Linked DNA regions of Homo sapiens: regions 1, 2 and 4 are each linked to region 3. Evidence: fine-mapped QTL for protein levels in blood plasma. A gene starts in region 3. Each other region holds a variant in brackets. All regions are shown on one strand. Distances are from middle to middle. Region 1 overlaps THBS4 (thrombospondin 4). Region 2 has its middle 13 kb from the start of THBS4-AS1. Region 3 holds the start of THBS4 (thrombospondin 4). Region 4 overlaps LOC105379048 (a long non-coding RNA gene).

Evidence for each region. PIP is the posterior inclusion probability: the model's chance that the variant is causal. Protein levels are from antibody-based Olink assays in UK Biobank. Linkage for the fine-mapping came from a reference panel and not from the study's own genotypes, which makes the PIPs less certain.
Region 1: its variant is fine-mapped to the plasma level of the THBS4 protein (UK Biobank, PIP above 0.99).
Region 2: its variant is fine-mapped to the plasma level of the THBS4 protein (UK Biobank, PIP 0.98).
Region 4: its variant is fine-mapped to the plasma level of the THBS4 protein (UK Biobank, PIP above 0.99).

The regions. Positions count from the first base shown.
Region 1 is chr5:80,068,976-80,076,695 of GRCh38, forward strand. It overlaps THBS4 (thrombospondin 4), which reads left to right. Exons shown (of 22, transcript NM_003248.6): 11 at 1,331-1,435; 12 at 1,668-1,775; 13 at 2,046-2,205; 14 at 3,303-3,421; 15 at 4,300-4,352. It overlaps THBS4-AS1 (THBS4 antisense RNA 1), which reads right to left. Exons shown (of 8, transcript NR_109930.1): 4 at 3,533-3,690; 5 at 3,111-3,248; 6 at 2,757-2,916. Among named protein-coding and RNA genes, the nearest start is that of THBS4-AS1, 11 kb to the right of the region's middle. RefSeq lists an enhancer at 1,214-2,413. The variant G/T (reference allele first, on the strand shown) is at 5,449.
Region 2 is chr5:80,092,637-80,100,803 of GRCh38, forward strand. No RefSeq gene overlaps it. Among named protein-coding and RNA genes, the nearest start is that of THBS4-AS1, 13 kb to the left of the region's middle. The variant G/T (reference allele first, on the strand shown) is at 3,734.
Region 3 is chr5:80,030,501-80,038,667 of GRCh38, forward strand. It overlaps THBS4 (thrombospondin 4), which reads left to right and starts at 4,848. Exons shown (of 22, transcript NM_003248.6): 1 at 4,848-5,125. The coding sequence starts at 5,038. It also overlaps the pseudogene TRMT112P2.
Region 4 is chr5:79,871,232-79,879,398 of GRCh38, forward strand. All of the region lies in intron 1 of LOC105379048 (a long non-coding RNA gene), which reads left to right. Among named protein-coding and RNA genes, the nearest start is that of LINC01455, 61 kb to the right of the region's middle. The variant G/A (reference allele first, on the strand shown) is at 4,333.

The DNA.
Region 1 (7,720 bases), 38 kb after region 3:
CAGAGTCCTCAGCCTGCCATCCATTCCCAAATCCAAGGATCCAAAGTCCTGGGGATCCTAGGCACTGAAAAATCAGCAGACTTCAGCTGCCCCCCTCCTCTGCACTTCCTGGGATGCCAGGCCCTCGGCCGGTGGCCCGTCAGACTCTGGGGTCACTGGTTCACAGTGATCACCCCTGAGTAGCAAGATGGATTCTCGGAGCCCTTTTCCATCTTTATCTCAAAGTTATGCTTCTTTATCTTTATGCATACACAATTTTCCACAATGAGCCTACCACTTTTCAAATAGGAAAAATAAGAGTCAAAAATGAGTTAATAAATAAATATAATGAAGTCAGCCCTCCTTGGCAATACAGATATTCTGTAACAAGGTCAGATGGAAGAATGTGGTGTATCAGAGGGGGAATAACCCCAGCAATTTCCTGAATTCCTCATGGTTGGGCTTGTTTATTACCAAAAAGCAGTCATTGAGAAACAAGTGTATATCTCTGTTGAAATCCCCATTTTCTGTGAACAAATTGACAACTCCCCTGGGATGATGGGTGATGGGGCTCTTAATATGTTTTTGAATTTGTAATAAGGCACAACGACAGATGGTAAAGGATTAATAAACTTGGCGTGACTACTAAAATAATTGAATCTGCCAGAAAATAGCTCATTAAAAATGTATTTGTTCCTAGAGGACATTTTTTCCTCATTAAAGTGAGTCAAGGATCAGCCTCGTGGATCAGCCTTCCAGGCCTTCCAAAGGCCCTGCTGGGGCAAGTGAGCAGGAACCAGGAGCCCGGGAGGGTCTCTCTGGAGTTCTGCCTCCTAAATCCTGGTTGCAGAGGGAGAGCACAGATGATTGAGAATAAGCAGGCTGTGGCTGAGGAAGTCACTGGTCTGAAAGCTTTTGGGTGGTGAGGCCAGGAAATTTAACCTGTGCTCACATAAGTCTGATTTCCCTTGGCCCAGACTCTGCTCCTCAGACTCTCTCCCTCTTCCTTCCTTTACCTCCCGTCCCAGGTCAGCTTTCTCTCCCTCTGCGTTTCCAGTTCCCTGTGACCTTCTGGGTCCCCTCCTCCCATCTCCCTTCTGCTGCTCTGCCTGTTCCTGGAAGTGGGAGTGGGAGGGAGAGTTTTCTCTCTGAGTCTCCCTTTATATCTTTGAATAGTGAACCATTACACTATTCAAGTGCAATTAAATAGTTTCTAAGCCCCACCCAACAAGGCTGAGTGACTCTGGGCCCTCCCCCTGGGATTGAGCAAAGGAGCAGAGAGGCCCTTGTCAGCCACCAGCTTCCTGCCAGGCTCAGCTTCCCAGGCCTCTGATGGGCTTTCCCTTTACAGTGTGGAGTCGGTTGGGCTGGAGATGGCTATATCTGTGGAAAGGATGTGGACATCGACAGTTACCCCGACGAAGAACTGCCATGCTCTGCCAGGAACTGTAAAAAGGTAAGGGGTGTGGGGTGGCAGTAGGCACACATGCACTGTGGCTTTCCAAAGTCACATCTTCTATGGGGAGAGGTTCTGTGGATCTAATTTAAAATTGTACTTGTAAAGTAGCTGCATCTCAGAGGAAGTGAAACAGCCACCAACAATAAAGCCACAGTGTCTTGAGGTCAGAAACAGTTACTGGCTTAACACAAATGTAGGATGTCACTCGGAACTGCATTTTCCCCCTAAGGACAACTGCAAATATGTGCCAAATTCTGGCCAAGAAGATGCAGACAGAGATGGCATTGGCGACGCTTGTGACGAGGATGCTGACGGAGATGGGATCCTGAATGAGCAGGTACCTGCTTCGCTGGGAGGGCCTGTGAATTGCCACGTACCAGGGATGATGGGAGAAAGCCTGTGATGTCAACTATGTATATGAATCATCCCAAATGTTAGTTTCCATGCCTGCATTCCACAGCACTGCAGCTTTTTACCCTATAAGATTCACAGATGTTTGAAATATAAAACTGACAAACTTGGGCCACCAGAGTGCTGATGCTTCACAACAATGGAGGAAGTGGATTTAGTAAAAGTCTGAGTGATGTTCTGTCCTTTCATCTTTTAGGATAACTGTGTCCTGATTCATAATGTGGACCAAAGGAACAGCGATAAAGATATCTTTGGGGATGCCTGTGATAACTGCCTGAGTGTCTTAAATAACGACCAGAAAGACACCGATGGGGATGGAAGAGGAGATGCCTGTGATGATGACATGGATGGAGATGGTAGATTTATCTTGCTTTTGTCTTTTATTTGGAATTCAGTTGACCTTGTTCCATTGTTCTCTGAGAGAGTAGGAATAGAATGACTGATTCGGAGCCTTCCAGCTGTGGGTGGCTCATTGTGGCCTGCATCTGGAAGACCCAAGGTGGACTTGTGTCTATGGAAGGAGACCCCACAGCCCACTCCACTACCTAATGGCTCTGGATGTTTCCAGGACTCTGTATCATTGCCAGAAACTTTGTATGACCCCTTCAAGCAGTGTCTTGTCAGAGTGTGTCTTTATGGGGTATCTCCCTTCCCATTTCTACCTGTCCTCACTCTCCACTATCCTTTCTACATGTGAGAGACCCAGAAGTGGAGAACTGAATGAGAAGGCATTGAGCAGGGTCACAGACTATGCATCACAGGCTACACATCCCATTGTGGGCCCTTGAAGGAAAAACCTTTTTGAAATACCACCTGCCCCAACACACACATACACACACACACACACACACACACACACACATACACCACTCCAGAACATGCACACCCCCCTAAAACATGACCTCACCTTCTGCAAGCCTAACTGATGACCCATTTCCAGTGGTATATGCTGGTAAGCAAATCACAGAAAGCCCTAGTTGGTAGCATTTTCCAGTTTCCATGATGTAACTCCGCATTGTCCTCATTGCTGATTTCAAGCTACCAATGTGACATCATCAAACACAAAACTGAAAAGAGAGGGACACAATGGACCCAGCTCCAGCACAACACTGCCTAGAGCCCTAGGGTCTCAGTCATAGCTCAGATACCCACGAGATCCTCCCTCTCCAGGGTCAGCCATACAGCCATCATGATCCCCTCCTCGTGGTTGCTATCATAGCCCTTGACATCTTGGACAAATTAGAATTCAGTCGATAAATACCTCTGAGAGCTGTTCATTTTTAAGTCTCCCAGAATCCGTCCTTTGAAGCTACCTCTGGATAACTGCAGAAAAGGGTAGTCTCTGTGTGACACTGGCCCAGGCAGAAGTGACTCACCATGCGCCTGATCTCTCCAGCACCTAGAAGAAGTCAGTGACATTCCCCTGACTCAAGGTAGCATTTCTTTCTCACAGGAATAAAAAACATTCTGGACAACTGCCCAAAATTTCCCAATCGTGACCAACGGGACAAGGATGGTGATGGTGTGGGGGATGCCTGTGACAGTTGTCCTGATGTCAGCAACCCTAACCAGGTTAGTAGGATACTGGGGAATTCAAACTCCAGGCTGAATTCCTCTATGCAAAGACTCATTTAAGACGGGTGTCTAGAAAAACAGCAGAGCCTCTTAGCTGTTGCCACTTACCTAACAAAGCAGAGGTGGAAAAATGACACACTGTGGGCCTGAAGATGGTGGGATGAACACCACACAAGATCTGAAGCCCTAGGGACTATCTCCCAGGCTGTCGATTGCCTGTGAGGTTAGTAACACGAACTTCATGATGCTCAATACAAGTATTTTTCCTGCAGAAAGGAAAACGGAGCATGGAAATTAACCATTGGGAGCCTTGTGTCCCTTTAGTCCCTAAACCCCTACACAGCCTATGTATGGACATTTCAGATTAAGTTCAGCCAGGGATGTGTTGCATCTCCCTTCTCACTCCTCCTCCCTGTCTGGATAATTGGGTATGATGTGTCATTTATTTTTAAAGCCCTGAGAGAGGGGAGTCATGGTTGCCCTCTGTGACTCACTCATGATTTTGGCCAAATTGCAAATTGCAGAAGCAAAGCAAAATCAACCTGCCTTCTCCCCATGCCTATGGCTGGCTCCCTGTGACCCGTGCCAGAGTTCCATGCCTCCACCTGCCACCATGCTACCCCAGCGCCCCTTTCCAATCAGCTCATCTGGTGTGTGGGCAGCCCATCCATGTAGCTTGATATTTTAGAAGGCTTTTTTGAAAATTCAGCATTGTGCCTACACCAATATGGTGTTGTCCTTTTGCAGTTTTGCACCACCCCGGTTCCAGAGAAATAATTCCCCAAATCCAATGATGATGGGTGAGGTCTGCCTTCTCTGGAACATTCGGTACATGCAGGCCCAGGAATAAATAACATGTGCTGTTCTCTTTGCAGTCTGATGTGGATAATGATCTGGTTGGGGACTCCTGTGACACCAATCAGGACAGGTATGGCATGTCTCCCAACTGCAGAGAGACAGATGCAAACATCCGGAGAGGGTTTTTGGTTTGTTTTTTTTTTTGAGGCGGAGTCTCACTCTATCACCCAGGCTGGAGTACAGTGGTGCAATCTCGGCTCACTGCAAGCTCCGATTCCCAGGTTTATGCCATTCTTCTGCCTCAGCCTCCCAAGTAGCTGGGACTACAGGCGCCCGCTACCATGCCTGGCTAATTTTTTTGTATTTTCAGTAGAGACGGGGTTTCACCATGTTAGCCAGGATGGTCTCGATCTCCTGACCTTGTGATCTGCCCGCCTCGGCCTCCCAAAGTGCTGGGATTACAGGCGTGAGCCACTGTGCCCAGCCCGGAGAGGGTTTTAAATTTCAGAACTTCCTGCTGCTCCATTCCTTGGGATCTTTCTGGGTGGACTGAGCTGCTGGTGGGATAATAGCCCTGCCTCTGGTCAGAATTACCATGAAAATTCTCCCTGAAAGTTCTGTATAGGGTATAACGGTGTCAGAATAGGTTACTAGGCACTCCAGCAAGTGAGATCTATTTCAGGAGAGGTAATATAGCATCATGCTTCACAGATGGGCTCTGGAATAAGACAGCTAGATATAAATTTCAGCTCCTTCTCTTACATGCCAGCTAACCTTAGGCAAATTACCTAATACTTTTGCCTCAATTTTCTCATCTGTAAAATGAGGATGACAATAGATCTAGCTCATAGGACCATCGTGAAGATTGAGTTGATCCATGGAAAGTGCTCATTATGGTTTCTGTTATATACATAGCACTCAATAGACATTAGCTCTTTTATTTTTATATTCTTTCAGCTCAGGAAAACTTCACCATCATCCCAAAATAGAAGGCTGTCAGTTTGCTGAGGGATTGCTATTATTTCCTGGTCCTTGAAATTTTTTTAATTCAGTTTTCCTTATTTAAGTGGAATTGTTCTGTGGAAGTGAGTTTTGTGAACCCTCCTAGCTCAACACGATGGAGTCCCACATTAAGACTCAAGGCTGGATCAACTGATCAGATTCTGGAAGAACATCACCAAAAACAGACGTGTGTCACTCAGCCCTAGCGGCACCTGCAACCCAAG[G/T]TTCTAAACCCTTTTGTCTCCATAGGGAATTCTTACAAAGGCAGCCAGGACAAGGATGAGAGGGAAAGGATTCTAAAAGAGAAAGCAAAAAAAGATGCAATTTCTCTCCTGATACCTGGATCAGAGGTTGCCCTGCAGAAAACCAGTTCCTGACCCAAACCTTACTCAAGGACAGCTCCTATGAAGCCACAGCTCTCTCTCTCTTTTTTTTTTTTTTTGAGATGGAGTCTTGCTCTGTCACCCAGGCTGGCGTGATCTCGGCTCACTGCAACCTCCACCTCCTGGGTTCAAGCAATTCTCATGCCTCAGACTCCCACGTACCTGGGATTACAGGTGTGTGCCACCATGCTGGCTAATTTTTGTATTTTTAGTAGAGACAGAGTTTCACCATGTTGGCCAGGCTGGTCTCGAACTCCTGGCCTCAAGTGATCCACCTGCCTCATCCTCCCAAAGTGTGCATCTCTTTCATTATGCTCTGTGTCCTTGCTGCAAAGTACATATAGTCATCCCTCAGTGTCCCAGGGTATTGGTCCCAGGATACCCCTCTGCCCCCAGGATACCAAAATCCTCAAATACTCAAGTCCCTTATATAAAATGATGTAATATCTGCATATAACCTATACCTGTCCTCCTATATGCTTTAAAAATCCTCTCTAGATTACTTAATACCTAATACAATGTAAATGCTAGGTAAATAGTTATTATACTGCATTGGTTTCTTATTTGTATTTTTTTGGTGTTATTTTTTATTGTTCTTTTTCAAATCTTTTCAATCCTCAGTTGGTTGAATCTGCGGATACGGAACCGCGGATACAGAGGCCTGACTGTACTAGCTAAGTGAACTTAAACATATTTCCCAGTCTCTTCACATCTCAACTTCTTCATCTGCAAAGAGGAGATAAATAAATGCATCGCACAGGTTATGGTGAAAAATCAAGATAATGTAGGTAAAGCTCCCGGCACAGTGCTGGCCCAAGGGTGACATGCAGAAAACAGGGGCCGTGTTATTATTGGTATCACAGTACAAGGAAAGGCACATCAGCAACAGAGCCTGACATCAGATGTCCCTCTCCTCTTCCGAGAGGAAGGTGGGACTGTATCCTGACAACTGCCCTAAATGATGTGCGTCAAGAATGTTCCCTGGTGCAGGTCATCTTGCACTCTGACTACTATCTACATTAATTTCTAAAATATCCTGTCCCACCAGCCTCTAGATATTTGCCCAAAACAAATGACTCATTCTGCTATGTTTTAATTCCCACAAAGTTGAACCTTGGAGAAGAGGATAGGAACTGCTTGTTTTTGCATAAAAATGTTCAGGGCTACATAGAACGGCTGCTAATGGAAATAGCTCAGTCTTGTGTTTTATAAAGCAGACCTGCTGCATGCACAGGGATTCTGCTGTTTGAGCCACATCATTTTCTGCTTGTCAAGGCTGACTTCACTTTCACTGGACCCTTTCTGTCCCCCTGTACCATGTGGTAGGTGTGGCCCTAGAGCATGGTCTGGTCCCTGGCTTCCCTCTCCAAAAGGGTGCAGGGGCAGCTCCTGGCCCAGGACAGGCCGCAGGTGGACCAGGTCTAAAGGAGTGCTCATTCTTTTCCAGAGTAACCATGAGAGGTCTCAGACTCCAGGACACCTCTTGGAGGCAGGGCAGACTCATCTTCAGGTGGCCCCTCAGCCCAGAAAGTCAGGTGGACAGAGAAGGAGAGTTCTGAGAAGTCCTTTAGACCAGCACTGAGCCCGGCCTACACACTCTCCTCGAGAAGGCGTGGCCCTGTTCACTTTGCCCTTCTCCCCATGGCGTTCAGGTCTGAATCCTCATTGGATCCACTAGCCAGGGATTGTGAAGAGTAATATAACGGAAAACACTGTAGGGCTTCCTAAGAGTCAGCACTTTTTCATATATTGAAATTTAATATGCAACATTCTGATTTTCATCATTTAATCTCCATAACAACTCTATGAGGTAGGTACTATTCTCATTTTACAGATGAGGACACTGAGCCATAGAGAGGTCAGGTGTCATGCCTGAGGTCACACGCTGGGCACAGTGGCTGAGCCAGGATTTACACTGAGGCTGTCTGGTTCCACTGCCTGTCATTGTTCCCCTCACACATCCTCTGAGTTGAGTATCATCTAGCAGTTCCCAGGGACTGACTGATAGGAGCATCTGGTCATAAATCATAGAAATAGACCCTTATCTTCTTTAGTAGGAAATGACTCACTTGTTTTAAGAGGTTGGGGATGGGAAAATTGTCTCTGAGGCCCA
Region 2 (8,167 bases), 62 kb after region 3:
TGTCTAAAAAAAAAGAACTCTTATTTATCAAAACGAACATCTCAACAAAAAGCAACAACCACCACATAGGAAGGAAACCACCACCTAAACGTGAATTATTGCAACTTAGTCTCTGAACGAACACTGAAGCCTCGCTTTCTTTTAGGTATTGCTTCGCAAAGACTTCTGCCTTGTCCCTCAGCCTAAATTCACAGGATAGAGTCTTCTCCATGAGCAAAGCAAAGAGCCATTCATCTATCCACTCATCATTCACTCATTCTTCAGACACACACTGAGCAATTACTACATACCAGGCACTGTGCTAGATACTGGGAGGGATTTTAAAAGTACACAAAGCCAGTCCATTTTAGTCCAGGCCTCTGTATGACTGAAAGCCTTTGTCTTACTATTAATAATACTGATCATAACTGCAAAATTATAGTGTAGTTTAGAATTAAATGAACCTGGCCGGGCGCAGTGGCTCAAGCCTGTGATCCCAGCACTTTAGGAGGTGGAGGCGGGCAGATCACTTGAGGTTAGGAGTTTGAGACCAGCCTGGGCAACATGGCAAAACCCATCTCTACTAAAAATACAAAAATTAGCCACGTGTGGTGGCATGCACCTGTAGTCCCAGCTACTTGGGAAGCTGAGACAGGAGAATCACTTGAACCTTGGATGCAGAGGTTGCAGTAAGATTGTGCCACTGCACTCCAGCCTGGGCAGCAGAGGGGGATTCCATCTCAAAAAAAAAAGAATTAAATGCACCTCAAAGCCAACCACTAGATTCTCTCGCTCTGTTTAGAAGACATTTGTTTGTTGTAAGAACCCAGACTTAATCCTGAGAGGTTTTAGCGGGGTCTAAAGAGAGCCTCGTCCTAAACATCCCTGCCAGGAAGAACACTTCCAGGGAGCAGGGGGCAGGCAGCTTCCTGGCCCAGGACAGTCTGCATGACCTAAATTACTTGAGTCAAAAATTCTTTGGGCCATATAGTGTTTTGGTGGTTGCTGTTGGGTTTTCTATTTGCTAACTTGAGCAAACATTTAAAATTTGAGTGTTTTTAGACAAAAACCTGGATTTCCAACTTCTCTTTAAAAAGTCAAAAGCTCCAGCCTCCATCTGCATTCACGCACAGGAACCTTGAAAAGGGCCTGTGTTGTCCATGCACCGCAGTGTCCACACATGTAAGTTTCTACCTGACTCTGTAAGTGATCGAGTATGAGAGTCCGTACTTGGGATTTCCCAGGTACCCTGTGCGGCCTGCAGGGGATATGGAGAAGGTTGGGACTCAACCCCTCTTGTGGCAGGCCAGGTCTCACGAATAGCTAAACAGGCAGGCCTCCATGACAACTGTTTCAGCACTGACTGAGTGCTTAGGTTAAACATTAAAGGCTGCAAGAGCCAGTGTCCTTACACAAAGGCTGGAATGTGACAAAAGCCACCAAGAGTCTTGCCTAGGCCTTTCCTGGGCCTTGAAGCATGACAAGATAACAAAGAAATTCTTACATTCCTCGTACCCACGTTTAGGATTAAACACGTTTTATTAGGGGTCAGCAAAGAACTCCCCAGACCGCCATAACTCAGCGGGAGGCAAGATAAGGGTAATCACCCCCAGCACCTGGACCCATCTAGATTAAATAAACTTACTGAGGCTCCGGAGGAAGGTCTCCAGGACTCAGATCTTAGTTATGGATTACAGGGAATCAGTCACTTGTGTCTTTTGATGAATCCACACTTACATGTAGACATATAGCTTCATATAAGCACTGGAAAACTTTGTAAATATGAGTCGGTCTGGTGATATTTTCCTGGCCTTCTGCCTGTACCGGGTTACAGAAATAAACTCTCTTCTTTCCCAGTTTATCTGCATCTCATTACTGGGCCATGAGAACAAGCAGCCCAACCCTCAGTTCAGTCTGGGAACACTCTGGCTAACAACCTGTTAGGGGTTGTCACCACTGCCTGGAGAGGATAGGGGTACACTGGGGGCCAGCCGACAGGAGCTGAGGTCTCAGGTAGAAGATTCCTACCTTATCAATAGATGGAAAGAGATTCAAACCCAGCATCACTGACTCTGGTTCCAAAATCTGAAATTCTTTTATAGCGACAGCACACATTCACCAGGTATGCAGAGAAGAGTTAACAGCAGGTCCGAGATGGCTGCTGATCTTTAGTTAGAAAGGCCTAATTGCAAAGTTGGCCCTTGGCTGGTATCTGAGCACTTGGCTTTCCAGAGTGTTCCCACCATTTCTGAAACTGATAAGAGTGGTTCACCATGTCTTGACTGTACAGTGTGGTTTATGCTGAGCATCTGCTTTCTTTCTGGGAGTTGGAATTTTGGTACATGGTAGGGAGAAGGTGCCTACAAGACGAGACCCTAATAAAAACCCTGGGTGTTGAGTCTCTAATGAGCTTCCCTTGTGGCCAACATTTCATATCCCTTGTCACAACTCATTGCTGGGGAAATTAAGCACATATTATGTGACTTCCACCTGGAGAAGACTCTTGGTAGCTTGCCCCCCTGGTTTTCTCTGGACTTGGCCCCATACACTTTTCTTTCTTTTTTTTTTTTGGTGCTGATTTTGCCCTGTATCCTTTCACTGTAATAAATTATAACTGTAAGAATAACTAGATGCTGAGTTATGCTTCAGCCAATCACTAGATTCTATTTAGAGGGCATTTGTTTATTTGAAGAACTCAGACTTACTTAATCCTGAGAGTTTTTACCTGGGTCCAAAGAGAGCCTTGTTCTAAACATCCCTGTCTAGAAAGCCTCCGATGAGACTTTCTAGCAAACCACTTAAATGTAGTGGTCTTGGAGACCCCGAAACATCAGTCAACTATCTCCAACAACTGAAAGAGGCTTTGGGCTTACAAAGTGCAAAGAATAATTGAGGTGCTAGGTCATCACAGGCATCACTAATGAGAAAATAATGGAAAACAGGGGCCTAAAAGTTGAGGCCAATCACCACAAAACACCTGCAGAGCTGGAGAAGCAAAACTCAAAGTGGAGACCCCTGAGATTGGACACATGACAAGGGACAGAGTCTAACTGAAGTGGTTTATTTGGTTAGTCTCATACCTAGAGAAATTTAAGGTGAGGCAGTCACCCCCAATACCAGCTCTACCCTTCTTTCATAGTCATAGTGTCCCAAATTTTTGCAGGAACCCAGATGCCCAGAATAAAAGATTATACTTCCCAGGTGAGTTGTGGCCATCTAAGTTCTGATCAGTGGCATATAAGCAAAAAAGTTCATGGTAGCTTCTGGGAATCTTCTTCTAAAGAGGGTTAATTTTTTTTTTTTTTTTTAAATGGAGTCTCACTCTGTTGCCAGGCTGGGGTGCAGTGGTGCAATCTTAGCTCACTGCAACCTCCGCCTCCCGGGTTCAAGTGATTCTCCTGCCTCAGCCTCCCAAGTAGCTGGGATTACAGGCATGCACCACCACACCCGGCTAGGTTTCACCATGTTGGCCAGGATGGTCTCGGTCTCTTGACCTCATGATCTACCTGCCTCGGCCTCCGAAAGTGCTGGGATTACAAGCGTGAGTCACCACGCCCAGCCAGATCATTAATATTTCTTATTCGTCCTCTTATCCCTCCTCCTAGGCTGGAATATGGATATAATAGCTGGAGTTCCAGAGGCTGTCTTGAGTTGATGAGAAAGCCTTGGGAATAGAAGCGTCATCACAGAGAACAAGATAGAACTGACACCGTGGAGTAACATACCAGTAACAGACCATAAGATTTCTATCACT[G/T]GACTTTGTGGACATGAAAAATCTCCATCTGTTCTTGGGGCTTTACTGTTACTTCCAGCTAAATTTAATCCTCCTTAATGCAAAAGAAATTCCGGATGGGGAAGTGTTTATAAAGTCATGTATCCAGAACCATAGACTCACCAAATCTTAGATCTGAAGAGTCATCAGGAAGCTTTTTGTTTCAGCCTTTTCATTTTACAGTTGGAAAAACTGAGGCCTAGTCACCTCTGTGGTTTGTCAGGGTTACATGGCTAGTTAGGAGCAAAACTGAGGCCAGATCCCAGGTTTTGGGGCTACAGGCTCATGGTTCTCATTTTCCTGCTATGAGAACTGCCTCAGGTAGGCCAGGGCAGGGGTAAAGTCCAAAAGGGGGTTTCTGTCTAGAGGACTCAAAGAAAAAGCAGTGTCGGATTGCCGTAGCTCACGCCTGTAACCCCAGCACTTTGGGAGGTCGAGGCAGGTGGATCGCTTGAGCCCAGGAGTTTGAGACCAGCCTGGGCAACATGGTAAAACTCCATTTCTTCAAAAAATACAAAAATTAGCTGGATGTGATGGTATGTGCCTGTCGTCCAAGCTACTTGGGAGCCTGAGGTGGGAGGATAGCTTAAGCCCTGGAGGTTGAGGCTGCAGTGAGCTACGATGGTACCACTGCACTCTAGCCTGGGTGACAGAGTGAGACTCTATCTCAAAAAAAAAAAAAAGAAAAGAAAAGAAAAGAAAAAAAAGAAAACATGCTGATAGACTGTACGTGATGAAATTTCAGAGATCTCCTGGGAGGCCATCCCGCTTCCAGTTTCGATGGGCAGAGACTCAACAGTGGAAGGCAGGTATGACCTGGGACTTCTCAGGCCCCAGCTTCCCTCCTCTTCACCTTCCTCTCACCCATCAGACTTCACACCTCCCTCTTCCCGTGGTGTTCAAACCTAAGTCTATACAGAGTGCCTCGAACCCATATGGTGCTTAGTGGTGGAACCCGGGCTAGATTTCACCCCACCTGTGCCTTCTTGGCCAGTCCCTCTATGAAGTACACAGACCGACAACCTTTTACAGAGGACTGGGCTTGACAAAGAGCTCGCTTGGATCCATCTTGCTTCCCTGTGCGCACCCGGCCCCACTCACACCGAGGGAGTTTCGGCCCTGCTGGAAACACCGTGGCAGATGCTTTGGTGGCCTGCCCATTTCTTTCACTTTGTCATTCACGGATGTCAAAGCACCAGCACCTGCAGTTCTTTGTTTCTGGGCTTCCTCTGGTGCAAAAGCTGCTTTTTCTGCCTATGTTGGAGGTGCGGGGGATTTAGGAGACCTAAGGAATGGGCTCCAGTGAGATGAAGGGAACGGGTGTGTAAAGCCTCAGCCCCTCGCCTGGTGGGGGCTGAGTCTGAGGAATGTGCCCTGCATTGTTCCCGCATGATTAGGCTCCAGCTGCCCCCAGTGGTAAGGCCCCTCTCCTCCCTCTCCTCCCTCCCCAGTCTAGGGGTGCTTCACCTCCCAAATAAAGAGGGTTCACTCATCCTTATCTCAGGGTCTGCTTCTGGGGGAGCTGACCAGAAGCAAACCTTCCTCAGCACTCAGATTTTACTTACTCCAAAATTAGGGAATATTAAGTTTGAACAGATACCCTGTGCTCAAAAGCATGCGCACAGACATATATATAGAAATTTCGGGCCGGGTGCAGTGGCTCACGCCTGTAATCCCAGCACTTTGGGAGGCCAAGGCGGATCACTTGAGGCCAGGAGTTTGAGATCAGCCTGGCCAACCTAGGGAGACCCCATCTCTACAAAAATAATTATTTAGCTGAGTGTGATGGTGGACACCTGTAGTCCCAGCTACTCGGGAGACTGAGGTGGGATGATCACTTGAGCCTAGTAGTTCAAGACTACAGTGAGCCATGATGGCACCACCGTACTCCAGCCTGGGTGACAGAGTGAGACCGTATCTCAATTAAAAAAGGAAATTTCCAACTTTTCTCTGAGCCCACTACCCAAAGACAATCATATGCCTCAGCCACTCAGCTGAGCTTTACTGCCCTTCCAAGAATAGCCTAGAAATCCAGTAAGGACAATGGAAACTAGAAAAATGAAGAGACACTGATACTGGATCTAATTCATATTTTTAACCCCACTCACCACCTGCAATCACACCCACCCACAGCCTTCAGTAAGTGCTCAGTAAATATCTGTTAGTCAGCAAAGCTACTGGGAGCACACACTCTGCCCCTGCGCCATACACCCTGCCCCCAACCCCTGCTCTATTATGGTGATTTCCCCACTCCTAGTCTCTCTGCACAGAATGGTGAAGAAACTGCATTTGGTTTTTTCAAACTATTCTTCAGGCCGGGCACAGTGGCTCATGCCTGTAATCTCAGCACTTTGGGAGGCTGAGGTGGGCAGATCACAAAGTCAGGAGTTCCAGACCAGCTTGGCCAACATGGTGAAACCTCGTCTCTACTAAAAATTAAAAAAATTAGCCAGGCATGGTGGTGCGCGTCTGTATTCCCAGCTACTCAGGAGGCTGAGGCAGGAGAAACGCTTGAACCTGGGAGGCGGAGGTTGCGGTGAGCCGAGATCACGCCATTGCCCTCCAGCCTGGGCGACAGAGCAAGACTCTGTCTCAAAAGAAAAAAAGAAAAAAAAAATACAAAAAAAAAACCTATTCTTCTGCACCCTCAGGAGAATGGGCCAGGAACATGCTCTTGAAACAGGCTGCTTGCTCAGAAATACATTTCCATATTAGCAGGCGCAGCTGTCACTCCTGCTGGAGGCCTGTTGGCTTCTTGAGAACTGCTAGTCTCACCATTTGCCACATGCCCAACAGGAAAATTTAATTCACAGAAACTCAGAATGCCAGATTCCTCCTCCCTCCCAACTCAGGGATCCCCTCAAGAGCCTGCCTGACAGCTGTTATCTCCTTCATGAACACCTCAAGTGACAGGGAACTCACCGCTGTATGATGTAGCCTATCCTATTGTTGGAAGGCTCTAGTTACTAATAATTCTTATTAGTAAACATCATCTATTAAACATTTGCTATGTGCCAGCCTCTATTAAAAGTAATTTAACTAGCCAGGTGTGGTGGTGTGCACTTGTGGTCCCAACTACTTGGAAGGCTGAGGCAAGAGGATTCCTTGAGCCCAGGAGTTCAAGACTGCAGTGAGCTATGATCGCGCCACTCTACTTCAGCCTGGGCCACAGAACAAGACCTCAACTCCTTTAAAAATAAAAATTAAATGAAATGTGCTTAACCTGTGTCAACTCATTTAATCATGACAACAATCCTATGAAATAGATGCTATTGTTATTACTCCACCTGACCTGACAGGCAAGGAAACTTACAGCACAGAGAAGTAAATAATTAGCTGAAGATCACAGAGCTAGCTAGCAAGTGGCAGAATGCAATTTCAAACAAAAAGTGGCCTTTGAGAGCTTTCCTCTGTTGCCTTTTTTCTACTTGGGGCAGAAATCTTCCATCCTATAAGTGAGCCTTTTTAGGTCCAGATCCTTGTGAAATTGTGATGAGTGCCAAGGACCCTTTCCATGCTACTGTGCATATGGTCACAAAACTCTGCATATTATTTCAGGGAGTCAATCTACCCCAGTCCTTGGACCCCAGGTTAAGAACCACAGCTAACACAAAATAACGTTGCTCTTGTATCTATTTGGAAATTCTCTTATGAACTTTTTTATTTCTAACAGACTTTCTCCAAGCTTAATTTTCCCTATTTTTTTATTTTTTTCAGACAGAGTCTTCCTCTGTTGCCCAGGCTGGCATGCAATGGTACAATCTTGGCTCACTGCAACCTCTGCCTTCTGGGTTCAAGTGATTTTCCTGCCTTAGCCTCCCAAGTAGCTGGGATTACAGATATGCACCACCACGTCCAGCTAATTTTTGTATTTTTAGTAGAGATGGGGTTTCACCGTGTTGTCCAGGCTGGTCTCGAACTCCTGACCTCAAGAGATCCACCCATCTCAGCCTTCCAAAGTGCTGGGATTACAGGCATGAACCGTCGCGCCCGGCCAATTTTCCCAGTTCTAGATGAAAGAATGTTCAACCACACCAATACTCAAAGATAGACAAATTCAAATAATAAGGTTAAGGTGTTATTTTGTACCTTTATAACAACAAACAACTATAAAGAAAATACTCAAAAATCAAGTGCTGGCCAGGTGCAGTGGCAGACACCTATCATCCCAGCACTTTGCAAGGCCAAGGCAGGTGGATCTCTGAGCTCAGGAGTTCAGGACCAGCCTGGGCAACAAGATGAAACCCCATTTCTACAAAAAATTAGCCAGGCACGGTAGTGCGCCTGTAGTCGCAGCTACTCAGGAGACTGAGGTGGGAGGATGCCTTAAGCCTGGAAGGCCAAAGCTGCAGTGAGCTATGATCACACCACTGCACTCCAGCCCAGGCAACAGAGCAAGACCCTGTCTCCAAAAAA
Region 3 (8,167 bases):
AGGATTACAGGTGCCCACCACCATGCCTGGCTAATTGTTTGTATTTTTAGTAGAGACGGGGTTTCACCATGTTGGCCAGGCTGGTCTCGAACTCCTGACCTTGTGATCCACCGGCCTCGGCCTCCCAAAGTGCTGAGATTATAGGTGTGAGCTACTGCGCCTGGCCTGATTTTTTAATTTTTATTTTTATAGAGATGAGGTCTCACTATGTTGCCCAGGTTGGTCTCCAGCTCCTGGCTCAAGTGATTCTCCCACCTTGGCATCCTAAGTGCTGAGATTATAGGCATGAGCCTCCATGCCTGGCCCCTTTATCCATCTTTTAATGTTAATAATTATATCCATTTCTGTTTCCTTCAAAAATTCAAGTGGAAAACCTGACATAAATAATGGTAACTTTTTTATTATACCTATATCAATTAACACATATGTATAAAACTTCTACTTAGTTGTGCCAAATATCAGTGCACAGTATGGGTGATTTCCCCCACTTGCGAAGAATGGTGCTATAGTCACCGCACAGGAGCAGGATAGATCCCCACTCTCAAAATTGGGTTTGGATATCAAAATCAATAATGCCATCACACATGCAGCAAAGGGGTTTGAAAGGTTTATTGCTCACATAATACGTTTTTTTGGGGGAGAGTAAGATGGGCTTCCAAGCTGGTCTGAAAACTAGAGAGAACAAGAAAGGAGAATGGCTTTGGGATTCTTATTGTGGTTAGGAGTGGGGCTGTGGTGAGGGTTCCTGTACATGGGCTAGGGCTTACTGTTGGAACTTTGTGCTAGTGCCAAGGAAGGAGCACCTAGGCATTCTTATCAGTTTGCTCAGATGTGGGGCAGAGAGGAAGGGAAGTGGTGGGGCTTGAGAACTGTCTGCAGTCAAACATCAAAAATTAAGTCATACTCTGTATTACAACAATTAGAAAAGAAATAAAATGTAGTATATCAGTTCTCTATTGCTACAATATTGTTACATAACAAACAACCCCCAAACCTCAATGGTATACAAAAATAAATGTGTCCTGCTCACACATCTGGAGTCAACTAAACAGCTCTGCTGATCTTGCCTGAACTCATTCATCTGTCAGCTTGATCTTGGCTGGCTTTGCCAGGGGTGGGCTATACCCTGCTCTATGTCTCTCATCCTCCAGTAGGCCAGCACAGGCATGCTATCATGGCAAAGGCAAAGGTGCAGGAGTAAACCAGCCCAATAACACAAGCACTTTTTAAGCCTCTGCTTGTGGCACTTTTGCCAAAATCCTGTTGGCCAAGCATGTTACGTGGCCAAGCCATGAGATGTGTACACAGAAAAATAAAAGATGTGTACACAGAAGAGCAAAGAATTGGGGCCATTTTTGTAACCTACTGCACCTATTAATGGATTACTAATATGTCACAACTCTTATCCTAGATTACAGTATTAAGAGAAGGAAAGTCAATTCAATGATATATTTACTACTAAATGTTAGGTACTGTACTTGGAATTAGAGTTACAAAACTAAATGAGATAATCCTAAGGAGCTCACAGTTGGATACTGGAAAAAAAATCAAACAAATTAATACATTATTAAAATAAATGAAATAAAATCCAATGTAAGTACATGAATAGATATTTTAATAAGAAGTGGCATGGAAATGAAAATAAACTCTTTTGTCTCCTTTATCATATATTTCATAGCTAATTAAATTAATTTTATTATAATCAAATTTACTGTAGACCTGAGGACATAAAGTTTACTGAGACTCCCTAGCGAATGGCTGCATAAAAATGCAAGCCCTCTAAAAGCAAAACCAGATTGTAAATTCTGTTAGGCTAACAGAAAGTCATTTGATTCTTTTGTTTTTCCGTTACACTTAGTAGTCAACCAAAATTTATTGTGTGCCTATATGTGTGTATTAGTCAGAGTTCTCTAGAGGGACAGAACTAACAGGATAGATAGGAAGGGGAGTTTATTAAGGAGTATTGACGCACGATCACAAGATGAAGTCCCACAATAGGCCGTCTGCAAGCTGAGGAGCAAGGAAGCCAGACTGAGTCCCAACACCTCAAGTAGGGAAGCTGACAGTGCAACCTTTAGTCTGTGGCTGAAGGCCCAACAGCCCCTGGCAAATCACTAATGTAGGTCCAAGAGTCCAAAAGCTGAAGAACTTGGAGTCTAATGTTTGCGGGCAGGAAGCATCCAGCACAGAAAAAGATCAAGGCCAGAAGACGCAGCAAGTCTGCTCTTCCGTCTTCTCCTGCCTGCTTTATTCTAGCCATGCTGGCAGCTGATTAGATGGTGCCTACCCAGATTGAGGGTGGGTCCGCCTTTCCCAGTCCACTGACTCAGGTGTTAATCTCCTTTGGCAGCACCCTCACAGACACACACAGGAGCCATACTTTACATCCTTCAATCCAGTCAAGTTGACACTCAACATTAACCATCATGATGTGCAAGCTATTTTGCTGGGAATTTGCTAGGATCGAAAATTCCTAGTTTTTTTGTTGTTTGTTTGTTTTGGTTTTGAATCTTTAATGAGAAAAAATACTATTGTGCTCAAGAACACCGTGCGTCTGGTGTGTCATTGGGTCAAGGGTTGGGGACACACATGGCAGAATTCAGAAACAGGGTAACATCAACAAAAATACACACGGTCATAAAAAGAAAAACTGGCACCTGGCATGATCAACTCTGTTTCCTCATCATTCAGCAGCATGTTGGGGATCCTGCGGCTGATGGGGAACACACGTCCAGACTCTGGGCACTGCAGGGTGCCCTCCAACACATCTACCTCCAGCAGCACGTGGTGCATTGTCCTCACCATGGAGATTCCTAGCAAATACTCTAGGTATTTTAAATAGAAGAAATTTAATACAGGGAAATGATTACATATATAGTAGAAGAACTGAGATGTCAAACAGAAGAGTGAGGCAATCCACATTTTAGCAACTGCAGTAAGTGACCTCCAATGTCATGGCTGGAGGGTGCAAATGGTGAGAAGGCAGAAGCTAGAATCATGGTGGACCCCACCTGCAAGAGTCACAAAGAAGATGCATCCATTCAGGTCACAGAGAAGTAAATACTCTAGTGTCTACCTTCTACCTTCTTATTGCTCTCTAGTCTCCCATTTTATCTAGACTGCTGACAAGCATGCAGTGGAAGGTGAGCACCAGATCTGAGAGGAAACAGGCAGTGTCTGGTGGCACACTACACAAGAACTCTCACAGGCATCCACTAGGCTTGCTTGGTGACTCATTTAAGGAGTAACCCTATTTTATGTATCAGAGTAGTCTATGGTGTGATATAGCATATTGCTGCTTTTGATGTTTGGTTTCATTTGTTCCCTGTAGGCACCTAATCACTGTTTTTTAAATTCCCCAGGAGATTCTGGTATACCCAATCAGCTGAGAACCACTGAATAGTGGCTTTCAAAATTTTGAGCATCCAAATATTGTCTTCACAGAAAATCTTAATCTCTGAAGTCTACTGTAAAAACATAGAAAGGCAAGGCTGTTCTGCTTGAAGCGTAGCTTGGGAGCCTAGATTCCTCTCAAACCCAGGCCACTCCTGGGAACATGGTCTGGAGATTTGAATGTTCCCAAATCTAGTTTATCTCATTAGTCGATATTTATGCACATCCTCTGTGTCTCTCAGTGTTCTCTCATGTGTAGACATATGCCCCATTCCAAAGAGTGACTGTAGTGTAATGTGGCATTAAAGGAACCCTGGATAGACCTGTATTGGACCTTACATATTAGAGAGCTCTGCAGATAGCTCACAAATCTCCAAGTCGCTAGCTGTAAATTGAGTGATAATTGGTGTCAGGTTATTTTAGCACAGTTTGGGGATAAAATGGTGCATTAATCTCCCAGTTTGTGGCTTATTAAACTTTGAAATGGAATTATTTGAGACATAAAAGAGATAGCAATACTTTGCTGGATGTTCTCCATTAGTCGAGATTGTTACAGAGGAGAAATTTTTGCCACTGTTTATCAAATATTTTTTCCTCTAGTTAATCCATATCATTCCGGGAGCTTTGCCCAGGAAAAGGACGAATTACTTGCGTTCCTCCGATCTCTTTCAAGTTCTACTCCCGTACCTTTAAACTGTCACACGGAATCTTTGGTGACAGAGGAATAGAGGTGGGCAAGCAGGGCGTTTGGAAACCATACTGAAAACGAATTATCCATAAAGCACAGATTCACCAGCCTAGAAATGGCTCTGTCTGGATGGATTCCTTGAGATGTGTTTTATCTCCATTAAAAACACAACAACTTTCAAACTTTCACTGTGTCTCAAAATGATAGAGAAAAAAATTCAGCCTTTCAAGTATTCAAGAAAAGCTTGAAGAAATAAAAGAAACTCGCTGCTCTCTGGGCCACTTTAGGAGGCAGAGCGTTCCTGGAGAACTTCAGGATTCATTCGCAAGGGAACCCAAGGTGGGCATTCAAAGCCGATCCAAAGGATATTCTTCTTTTTAGAAAACAAAAGGAGCGCAAGGAGTAGGGGACTGAAGGTGCCCAAAGCTAGTGGGTCAGTGTCACTTTCTTCCTCCCTTTCGCCCCTTTCCTCCCGCTCCTTTCTCCCCTGTGGTCTCTGCTCAGCACCCCTTTCTCTCCAGCCCCGACTGCCCATCTTCGCCCCTACCCTCGCGCGTCGGGGCCGTGTCTACACCCACCCCAGGACCTGGTCCGTCCAGGCTCCTTCCCATCCTCACACCCGCGCCTTTCTCCCTGCGGCCCCGGCTCGCTGCTCCAGCTGCCCAGCTCTTCCCAGGACAGGGGATCCCGCCAAGGGGGCCGCCCCCGCCCCGGCCCTCCCCCGCCCGGCCGCACCATAAAGCGCCCGGCCGCTGCCGCGGAGCCCAGCAGCCAGCTCCCCAGCACCGCACGGCGGGGACGCGAGCGCGCCCCCGACGGCAGCCCGGACGCCGAGCACGGGTCACCTGCGGCGCCGGCCCGGGCGCCGACCGAGGTTCAACGCACGGCCCGGGGACCCCCAGGCGGGGCCAACGCCGCCGTCGCCCCCGGCCTCGCGGGGAGCAGGAAGAGCCAACATGCTGGCCCCGCGCGGAGCCGCCGTCCTCCTGCTGCACCTGGTCCTGCAGCGGTGGCTAGCGGCAGGCGCCCAGGCCACCCCCCAGGGTAAGTGGGTTCGGGTCGGGCCTGGGAGCGCCGGGCACCGGGTGCCCCATCTGCTGAGTGAGTGGAGGGACTTGCTCGGCCCTGTGCTCCTGTGGCCTTGCTCAGCCCCTCTCTGTCCCTCCCGGGCCCAATCAAAGCATATTGTGATTGGAGGTAGTGATTAGTCTAGAATTTTCCGAAATTCGATTATCCAATGATGAGAACAATTGCCTAAATAGTTGGGGGATGCAAAATTGTTTCAGACTATGCAAAGATGTGGGGTGGGGTTGCCTTCAAAACTTGCTACACGGTCCTAGACCTCTTAACATGTTAGGCTCTGGTGTAGGGTGAATTCCGGGTCCTGCACCCTGTGCCGGTTCCCTCCAGGCAGCCTTGCTCCCTAAATCCTTCCTCAGGCGGAGCGATGTATGCCCAGAGTCTGCTCTTGACATCCCTGAGAAAGACGCAGAATTACTCTACTTGCCCTGCCACCTGCATTTTCTGCTCTGACTTTGCTTGAACGACAAAAAGAAAGTTTATTTCAAGGATTGGCTTGATGTCTTAATTTCTGAGGTAAATAGGAAGGGCTGAGAAACTGGTCTTTTTCAATGAAATCAGTTCTTTGCAGCAAGATGGATGCAGCTGGAGGCCATTTTCCTAAGTGGATTAAGGCAGGAACAGAAAAGCAAATACCATGTTCTCACAAGCGGGAGCTAAGCAGTGGATAGATATGGACATAAAGATGGAAACAGTAGACACTGGGGACTCCAAAAGTAGGGGGGAAGGTTGGGAAAACTACCAATTGGGTACTACGTTCACTGGGTGATGTGTTCACTAGAAGCTCAAATCCCACCTTATGCAATGCACCCATGTAACAAACTTGCACATGTACCCTCTGAATCTATAATTTAAAAAGAAAAAAGAAAGAAATTGATCTTTTTCTATGAAACGGTAAAAATTCAACAAATAATGTGAAAAGATACTTGGACAATCCTCAAACCCCTTGGTGAAATGGGGTGAAATAGCCATTGGGTAGAAAGCAGTTAAACAGAATTTTTTGTAAAGACCAAAAGGAAGACATGATTTAAGCAAAGAAAGATCTTAGGGCTATAACTGGCCCTAACTGGTCAGGCGTGAGCTTCATCTGTTTGAACTTGGTGCCTGGGTTGATTTATTACTGACTGTGGAAGTAAAACTGGAAGAGACGCACAACTTGAAGTAAAAGTTGTTTTTCCTCTTGTAGCCAGAGCAAAGACTGCCTATGAGGGCGTTCTCAACTTCCCTGCCTCTCGCTGCTGGAATCACCCATTTAAACTGCATTTCGCCAAATAACTCATTTTCATTCCAGACCAGACAACCAGAACTGTGGTTTCAGGGGTTAGAGTACTGCTAACTTTTAGTTTGTGTTGAAGTATTTGAAATGCTGTAGTCCGTGCCCCATACTTCTAGGAAGGTAAAAAAGGAAGCTTTTAAACACTTCAAAAGTCTTATTGTGATGATATTTGGCAAGTTCAAATTTATAGGTATAATTTTTTTGTGTTATATACGTTCTTGACTTTTGAACATACAGCTTTATGGTGTGCCTTAGGTATGTCTCAGACATACCTGACCATTTTATGGAGATTTGAACTCGGCCTATACAACCTAAATTATCTGGGTAATTTAGTTGCTGTAGATGATCTGATTAAGTTAAGTTTCTGATAGATTCTTTTATTGCATTATCTAGTCTGCAATTATCAGGCTTAACAGGATAATTTGATTATCTCCTTCTTCCCCTGAGCTTCATTGTTGGTCTTAAATTAGTATATATTCAATTTACATACCATGGTAGCTGCGCTCATTGGTAGCAGTAATTTCACCTCTAACAGTAGAGGGTTGTGCTTTGATCCTGGCACTTAAACGTAATAACATTAATAGAAAATGGTAGTGTCTCATTTCCTTTTCAAAACACTCTCTATGTTCATTACTAACTAATCCCATCTCTGCCGCTTGAGAGAGATGCAAATGAATCAGACGAACCATAGATTGAAATACCGCAAGTTTAGCTTGAGTTACATCATGAACCTGATCATAGTCAAAGGAAGAATCAAGAGTACTAAGAATTTTGTTTTGAATGTAGTTCCCATACTTTAAATACATATCTCTTTTCTGAAGATGTTTTGTCCTGAATGGAACTTTAAAACATATTGCCTTATTTCCCTTTGCCCTCATTAGTGGAAATGTAAAGTTTCCAATTCTCTTGAAAATTAAAAAATCCAATTTCCCTTTTGAAATGCAGTAGGCAACAGTGTTTATGGTTTAGGGATATAGGCACTAAGAGGAGCACAGTAAATGTTCTGCTTTCCAACACATCTCATGTTAATTTCATTATTGTGTAAGGACCCCTGGTACATGTGAAAAATACAGTATAGATCCAGTTTGAAGACAAATTGTCTTTTAAAAGGGGTAAATATTCTTGAGTAACTAGGTTTTTGCCTGTTTGCTTTAGAACTTTTATTCATTCTTATTACAAAAGCAATACCTGCCCATTGTAGAAAAGATTAAAGTTAGATAAGCAAAAAATAAAATAAAAAGAAAAGAGGAAATTTAAAACTTATATTTATGCAACCCGGGGATAGCTTCTATTAACATTAACATGTTGTTGTATTGTCTTTCATTTCAAATATTTTTCTATGCAAAAATATATTTCAAATGGAATTACGTTATACATATAGTTTTAGAATCCTTTTTTCTTAATGTATCATGAACATCTTTTCACATCTGTAAGTATTCAGCTACATTTTAAAAATAGGTAGTATTCTGCTTTTTGGAAGAATCAAAATGTATTTAGCCAGGGTTGTAATATAGAACCCTTAAGTTGTTTTCGGTTTTGATATTGTAAATATTAATTTATTGAACAAGTGCAGGTGTCACAGGATGGTTTGGGATGAGTTTAACCATCCCCTCAATCTCAGCCAAGCCCTTCTCTTTTTTTTTGCTAAGGACAGTTAATGTTTTCATAGCAAAATGCTATGCCAACAGAGCTCAGGTTTACCTCTCTTCCAATTAGATTTTCACCTAATT
Region 4 (8,167 bases), 160 kb before region 3:
TTCTGCCTCTCCCTCTCATTCATTCACTCAGCTACGTGCTGAGTCTCCACCAAGGAGAAATGACTAGAGGCAAGCGCTGCTCTCAGGAAACGGAGTTACACTGTGAGGCAGTTTGTGAGTGGATCCCAGGCTTAGCAAGACCCACTGGAAATTCTCTCAGGGTTCAGAGAGGATAGAAGAGATGAGGGCTTGAGTAGATGAGAAGAGAAAACTCTTTGAAGTCAGCCCTTGAAAGATTGGTTCAGCAGAGAGCAGGGGCTAGGACATTGCAGATGAAGCAGGGAGACAGCATAAGGGATATCATAAATATACATGGGATACGGTATATGTGTGTATGCATGCATGCATAATAGTTATATGTGTAAATAGTGCAAAATCCAGAAAGTTAAAAAGATATGTATTCTGGCTCCTTGTTCCTCCTCACCCAGTTCCCCTCCCTAGAGGCAGCGTTTATGTTTAAAAATATTTAACAAAGACAGAGTATCGCTCCGCATCCCCAACTCATGGCTGGATGGCTGAACCGTTTTCTAAGAGTGGAAGTATCAAACATGCATGTTTTCATTGTTTTATCCGCAGTGCATTCTGTGACCACTCTCCACAACCAAGTCCTCACAAAAAATACTTCATGCACCATTTTGGGGACCAAGTTCCTGCCCCAAGATGCAGAAAAATTGAGAGGCCTATATAATGTTAGCCACCCCTGCCTCCTCCCAGGAATCCACAGAAATCTCCGGAGGACTCTGGGCTCCTGCAGGTCATGAGTTGTGGGTCTGAGCCAAGAGCATGGAGATCTAAGAGATCTAAGGGACCGGGAGGCCCCAGGGGCATGTGCACTGCACATTAAATGGAAAAGGTTGACCCATTTGGAGACCAGGGCAGCTTACAGCCAAGGAAGGGCTGCCTCTGCCCCCAAGGGGATGTGTAAAGGGGGTGCCCAGGGACACACAGGAGCAGCCCTCATGGAGGGCACTAACAGAATCAGGGTTCACAGGCTGCAGGAAGACAACTGAGAACACACAGATGGACTCTGGCTCTTCCCAGATGAGTTTCCTGACCAGAAGAGAACTCCCGCATAGAAAGGTTATGTGGGAAACACTCTGGTTTTTCTTCTCCTGCTGTGAAATCAATTAAAAACAGGATGGATATAAAATGGTTTTATAACCTCCTCCACCTCTGGCTTCCTTTCTTCTTGGGGATGAGCCAGGCAGAGTGGGGAGAGACAGGAGTCTCACGGTCTGCAAATTCTGCAGCAGTTTAAATGATAGTGACCTATTGCTTCAGCTCTCCTCAGGGGACCTGGGGCTGGAGGAGAAAATGTCTCCTTGGAAAGTGGCCAAAGGAAGGAGAGCCCCATAGAGGGAGTGAGGGTAGGTAGGGCCCAACCCTTCCAAGTTCTGGGTCAGTCTTAGGTTCAGAACGCATCTAACCTGGGGAAATGAGACAGCCAGTTTTGGAAGAGAGTTTATTTCCCACAGAACAATTCAAATGGCTTGTTAGCCTCGCGCACACTTGCTTGATATGACCCAACATGAATAATTTTCATTCCTGTTTTGATTTACAAAAAATGATAGTACATAACTTTTTTTGAGTACTACTCTGTGCCAGGAACATACTCAGATACCTTTCTTACGTTAACTGTAATTCTTATAACACTACTGAAAGTTAAGTACTATTTTCTCCTGTTAAAAATAAGGAAAATGAGGCTCAATGAGGCTAAGTAAACTTCTCAAGATCAGAGAGCTAGTAAGCGGCAAAACCAGCATCCAAACACAAGTTTGTTAAAATAATAATAGTTCTGACTTATTGAACTCTTCTGTGGGCTAGATATTTGACATACATTATCTGAAATCCTTATCACAACCCTGTGAGGGATTTTGCTGTAGCTCCATTTGACAGATGAAAAAGTCATATTTAAGGAAATAGTGCAAAGCCCTAGAACTGACTTGGTGAAGTCTGGCCTTGAACCTGGGTCTCTCTGGATTCTCTGATGCCTGTATTTATTCCAAGTGTGCCACGCAACTTCGGGGACCCAGAAAGGTGCTCTTGCCCTAGGTGCTTCCAGTGGGTGCTCTGGGACCAGCGAGGGGCCCCCACTGGTTGTCCGTGGTGATCTGAGGTTGAACTGAGCTGTACACAGAGCATGAGAGTGGCTTCTGCCAATACACATTGTTCTCCGCAGCATGTAATGTTTTCTAGGGCCTTGGCCAACTTGGCTGAGGCATTGTAGACATCTTGAGGGACTGGGTTCCGAGCATCTTAAACGGATCGACAGATTTTATCAGGAAGTACTGCTTCTTACCACAGAGCTGCCCACATTTTTCCCAGTGAAGAGTATTAGCTGGAACTAGGGTTCCAGCTATTTTTACACCCGATGTAAAATCATGTGAATGAGCTTCCATGGCTTACACATCCCTCCTTACTCGTCAGACAGTTCTGATCTGCTTTAGGCAACCCCATCTTCTCTTTATTCCTGTGTTATTTTCCAAGGCACAGCCACCCACAAAACATCTTGGGGAATCTTGATGTCCCAATCCACATCTTCGCTTCACTTACTTGCTTGCACCCTGAAATCTGTAGTCCACAAGCAACAGCCACAGCAAGACAATCCGAGATTGGGCTGGCATTGAGAAACGCCCAAAACATGTTTACATCTTGCATGTCTTTTAGGGCTCTTGTTAACCCAAGGAGAAAGAGCAGTATGAACACCGGTTTTAGAGAATAAATCTAAGACCCTGTTAGTGCCCGAAGCAGGATTAGAAAGTAGATTTTCACCGGATTCCATTGTCCCCAATTCTCTTGCTCCAGACCCTATTCTAAGGCATAAAGTTAGGGAAATAGCCACAGAGGCTCAGGCACATTGCCCTGATTTGAAATGTTTCCCTCAAGGGGTCCTTTCAGTTGTTCTGAAAACTCAGCCTGAAAATTGTAAATGCCCCATAAAGGCAAAGCTTTTACCTGGAACAATCCATTGCAGAAGAAGCATATTCCCTAAAGCCAAGGTTGTTGCACAATTTGAGCTGTCTCACAAGCACCAGCAACTAGTCATTCATTTATTCAAGAAATACATACTGAGTGGCTTCTAGGGGCCAAGTACTGCCGAGTACTGTGGACTCAGCCTAGCTCTCCTGGAGTGCAGAGTGCATCGGAGGAGTCAGTTGAACAGGAACTTTTAGTGAAGTGTGCGCTCTGGGAGTAGACAGCAGGGGGGCCTGGGCAACCCCAAGGTCAGGGTTGGCTTCTCTAAGGAAGTGACATTTAAACTAAGACCTGGAAGACAGTAGAAGCTGGCCAGGCAAGGATGACATGGAGTCCTCCAGTGTGGCAGCCATGAGTATGAGCCTCGCAGACCTCCAAGATGGAGGAACTTCATTGACCAGGAGCCCAGCTGCTGCACTCTGCAATCCATCACCATGCCTGTATGGAGGCCATGCTTCCCATAGGCTACACCAAGGCAATGGCTGAGGTTGGTGGGAGTGCCAGGGCAGCCTGTTCCTTGGAAGCCAGGACAACTCTGATGGCCACCTTTGCTCAAGAACACCCCCATAACGCTGCTGAGCTTCTTTACATTGCTGGGTGGTCTACAGTGTTTCTCTCCATCCTTCCTCCCATCTCTCCTTCATGTGGAGTCAGGCTTGCACCGTGTTCCTTATCCAACCTCTCTCCTCTCCTGCCTGCCATGGGCATGTGTGACATCGCTCAGGGAGGATGAGAAGCGGGAGGTGAGCTGAGCCAAGAGGCCAGGAAAGAAAAAAGGGAAAGGGCCCTGGGTAGAGCCGGGCAAGTTCTATTGTCCCAGCAGGAGGAGGAAAAGTCAGACAGGAGGAGTCAAAAGTTGATTCCAGGGGTTGTTTGAGATTAGAATCCTGTCCCTTCTTTTTAAAATTCCAGAATGGCTCTGGCTAAAAGCTTCCTGTTTCAGGACAAAGTCCCAAAGGAACTTTTTTGTAAAGCCATCTTGTAGATCACCTATAAAAGCTTTGTCCTTCCCTAACATTTATATCCTTACAGGTATCAGAAGAAGGTGGCTCTCCAGAGTGTCACCTTGGCAGGGCCAATCCCAGTCCTGACTGGGGAGAAGCCCAGGTGCCAGGAGTGTTGTTACTGCGGCAATGGACGCTGCAGTCTGCCGGCACCCGATGCCGCTCACCAGCTCCATCCTTCTAATCAGCAGCCGAGGCTCAGATTCTTCCCAGCTGCATGGGGAGACTGTCCTGCTCGGGCTGCTGTGAGTCACTTGGCAGATCTAGTTCTCATTGCACATTAATGCATTGGGGATTTTGTTTTATTTTTTTAAAAATAAAAGAATAACATTAACATCAAGGGAGGTCATCA[G/A]AGAGAAAAAGAGTTACAAAAAGGCAGCATGCGGCCTGTGCGTGTGAGGTGGAAGGTGGAGCGGGGGTGGGTTTTGGCCTTTAGGTGGGCATGGCTGCCCCAGCCAGGGCTTCAGTGGTGCCTTTCACATCCATTCTTTATCTATAGGATGCCTGGGGATTAGGTAGGAGTGCCAAAACACTGCAATTATAAAAAGAGGGAAAAATGACCCTGTTGGTGATCATTTAAGGAAGTATTTTAGGACAACTGAAAGGAAATAGATCTTTACACAGCCTGTAGCCTGTAAGTGGAACCCATTACCCCCATTAGGTGTTCTGCATGGAAGTAAAAAATGGGTCCGAGAATAGGTCAGATAAATTCACAGATATTAGATGTCATGGTCACTAGGATCAGCCTATGAAGAGCAAGTTACCATGTTCCCATGAAAATGTTACTGCTGCCCCCAGAGGACCTGTGCTCCAGCCACATCAAGCTCCTAAATATTTCTGGAACAGTGAGTCTTCTTTCTTGAGTCTGTGTCTTTGCCATGCCGTTGCTTCTAGGTTCCCTTGCCACTTTTTCCCAAGAGTGGTAAACTACCACTTATTCTTCAAGATCCAGTTCAAAGCCTCCTCTAGAAAGCCTTTCTTGAATCCTCTAGGGCAGGGGTGGTCACTCCTCACTCTGTGCCCCCAAAGCCTGCTGTACCAAGCACACACACAAAGCTACCACTGCACTATAATTGTTTGTCTGCTCAACTGGACTATAAAATTCTCCAGGGTAGAGATTGTGCCTGATTCATGTAGCTTAGCAGAGAGGCTGGCCTGCAGCCTCTGTGCAGGAAATACATGTGAATAAAGGAATGAATGTTGAGTTACATCAACCAATGGTCTCACCACTTAAAGGACATATTCTTAATGACATTCTCAGAAGCTTTGCTTCTAATATCACTTGGACAATACTCTTCTGCCAGGACATATTCCTGTTTATCTCAGCTAATATATATGCTAGTCTCCAAAGCAGCCATCTGTGTAGTTGAAGTGAAGTAGCCAAGAGAATTGAGATTTTAGTGTCTTTAACTTAACTGTGTCTCTCAGACAAATGAGCCAGTTCCCCAGAAATCTGGTCTAGAAACATTGCCAATGCACATTCCAGTGACTTTGAGATGTTAGAAAAACAGACATATCACCTTTCAGGCTGAAATCACTGGGAAGTGCATTTTAAAGCTGGGTTTCCTTCCAGATCCTTAGGTTGTGAATGACACACAGTCTGTGGAAAATTTATGAGATCACCAAGAAGCCGAGGTCTGAAGTGTTCAAGAAGTGTTTAACCACAGATCAAACACAACATTTGCGTGTTTCTGAAAAACAACAACAACAACAAAAAACCACCAAACAGCAAACAAAGGTCTAATGATCAAAATGGTGTCCAACTCAAACCAATATGAGGGGTCTGCTCAGGCCCATATGTAGAGATTCTGAAGATGATGAATTGTAGGAAGAGAAAGGAGAGTAAGACCCTGGCAAGTATGGGAAAATCCAAGAATAATGAGGGGTGCTGCTCGGTCAGTTAAATAACTATCCCTAGAGAAAAATTCCTGGAAGCCGAGAACCTTGGGTTTCAACCCCAATTTACATCTTTTTAGAAAATCATTTGAACTTAACTTTCAAATGATTGACTGCAAAAATTTGTTAGTCAATTTAAAAATATCTATACATGCTTTTATGTGTGTGTGTGTGTGTATGTGTGTGTGTGTGTGTGTGTATTTTTAGTAGAGACGGGATTTCACCACGTTGGCCAGGCTGGTCTTGAACTCCTGGCCTTAAGTGATCCACCCGCCTCGGCCTCCCAAAGTGCTGGGATTACAGGCGTGAGCCACTGTGCCCAACCTACACGTGCTATTAACTTAAAGGCAAATGTAAAGTGTTTTGATGGGCCGCAATGCAGCTTTTTATTCAGAAAATAGCTTTGGGGCAGCTAGTATGTCCAGGGCCCCTGACTGGGCCCTAGAGATGCAGCAGGGAGTAGGACTGCGGTCGCCTCTGCCCTCATGGGACCTAGAGTCTGGTAAGAAGAACAGGCCCAGAATAAGTGATTACATTAATAGCCAGTGGCAATAAGGTTTTGCTGGGAGACATCCAGAGGGTTCTGTAATATCCAGTAAGGGTACTTGATTTATTCCAAAGGGCAAAGATACTCACCCTGAGGAAGTGAGCCTGGGCTGATGCTCAGCATTGTGGATGTAGGGAGAAGAATGTTCCAAGAAAAGGGAGGACTCTCAAGAACCGAAGCTTACAGAATTGCTGAAGCCCAGGATGAGAGGAGGAATCACCAGAGAAGGCTTGAGAGATAGGCAGGGGCAAGACAAAAATATTTAACAGCTGACACGTGGATATAATTTCATAAACTATTACATTTATCTTAAATGTAATTATAAAATGTGTTCCATTTTATTCTCTAAATTTGCTAAATTATAGATATTATTCAATGTCTTCCTTTCCAAGAGATTTAAGTAATACTACAAATTGTTTATAGATGTGATTTTTTTTTTCTTTGATGTAACTGCCACTAGATAAATGATGCCCCTGAGCCATGAGAAAACTTTTCCAATGATTTTCCCATTAAATTGCTGCACATTAAGTAACACGCAGACTCAGGAAGTGGAGAATCCACTTAACTTCAATGGTATTTTTCAAGATGCTTAATTTTCTCTCAGCATCTGCTGAAATAACAGCCATTGCATTAACAAAGTTTCCTAGCGCTTGTAATACTGCCTTAGATTTTTATCTATTCAATATCTTTATATTGACTAAGTCATGAAAATGGTATATTGGAATCACATGCTTGAGTTTCACCTACTCCTTAGGCTAGATGAGAGGCTCTAGTGGGCAATTACGTACTGAGCTGCCAGTTCAGTATTTTGGCTCAGCCCCTCAGGCTGTAGATAACCTCCCTGCACTGCGGTTTTCTCATGCATAAAATGGAAATTATGGTATCTGTGGTGTTCCACTGAATTAATATACATCTAGAATGAACACAGCTGGCGTTCTATTCCCATTAGCTCTCCCCTTTAGTAATAAAATTAATATTGTAAATGCCCAGGACAGATGACCATCAGGTATCCAAGCTCTTCTGATAAATGTAGGAGTAATTCAACAGAGAAGAATTTCTCACTGGTCTCCAGACCATCCTTATGGGTGCCTGTCTTTCTCGAGAGTGCCCATCATTCCTGAACTCTGCCCGGCACCTGACCAGGACCTGTAGGAAGCATATTAATATGCACTTATTTGCTCTTTCAATTTTCACTGGGTACTCTAGGAGCCCAAGTTCGACAAAAGCTGATGTTCCCACATATGGCCAGGTGAGGGCGACTCTGAGGGAGCACTGGCCTGTGGTAGCTGACTACAGCCTGGGAGGGTACCAGAGTCCCTATCAGGGGTAATGTCATCCCTTTACCATGGGATTTGGGAATGCTCTGGTTAAGTGAATTCACTGGGACAAGGCCTAGAGCTTGGTGAGCATAGGGCTTGCCTGCTGAACACCACCACAGTGATCCTCAAGCAAAACCCACCTGGATTGGGAAAACACCAAGACACGGGCATGAGGCAATCCTCTCATGGTGGAAGCCAATGGCAGTGCCTAGAAGTCCATATTTTGGGGGAAACTGATTGGCACAAGCATCAACCAACCAGAGTAGATTCAGCATTCACTCTTTGGTTAATGGGTGGAGAGGAGATAGGGGAAGTAGTTCCAAAGCATAGGAGAATTTTACTATTTAAGCAGCTAGTACCATTAACCATGCAGATAAACACAAGTTGAATGTTAACCTCAGAGCCATATTAATGGCCCTGGATGC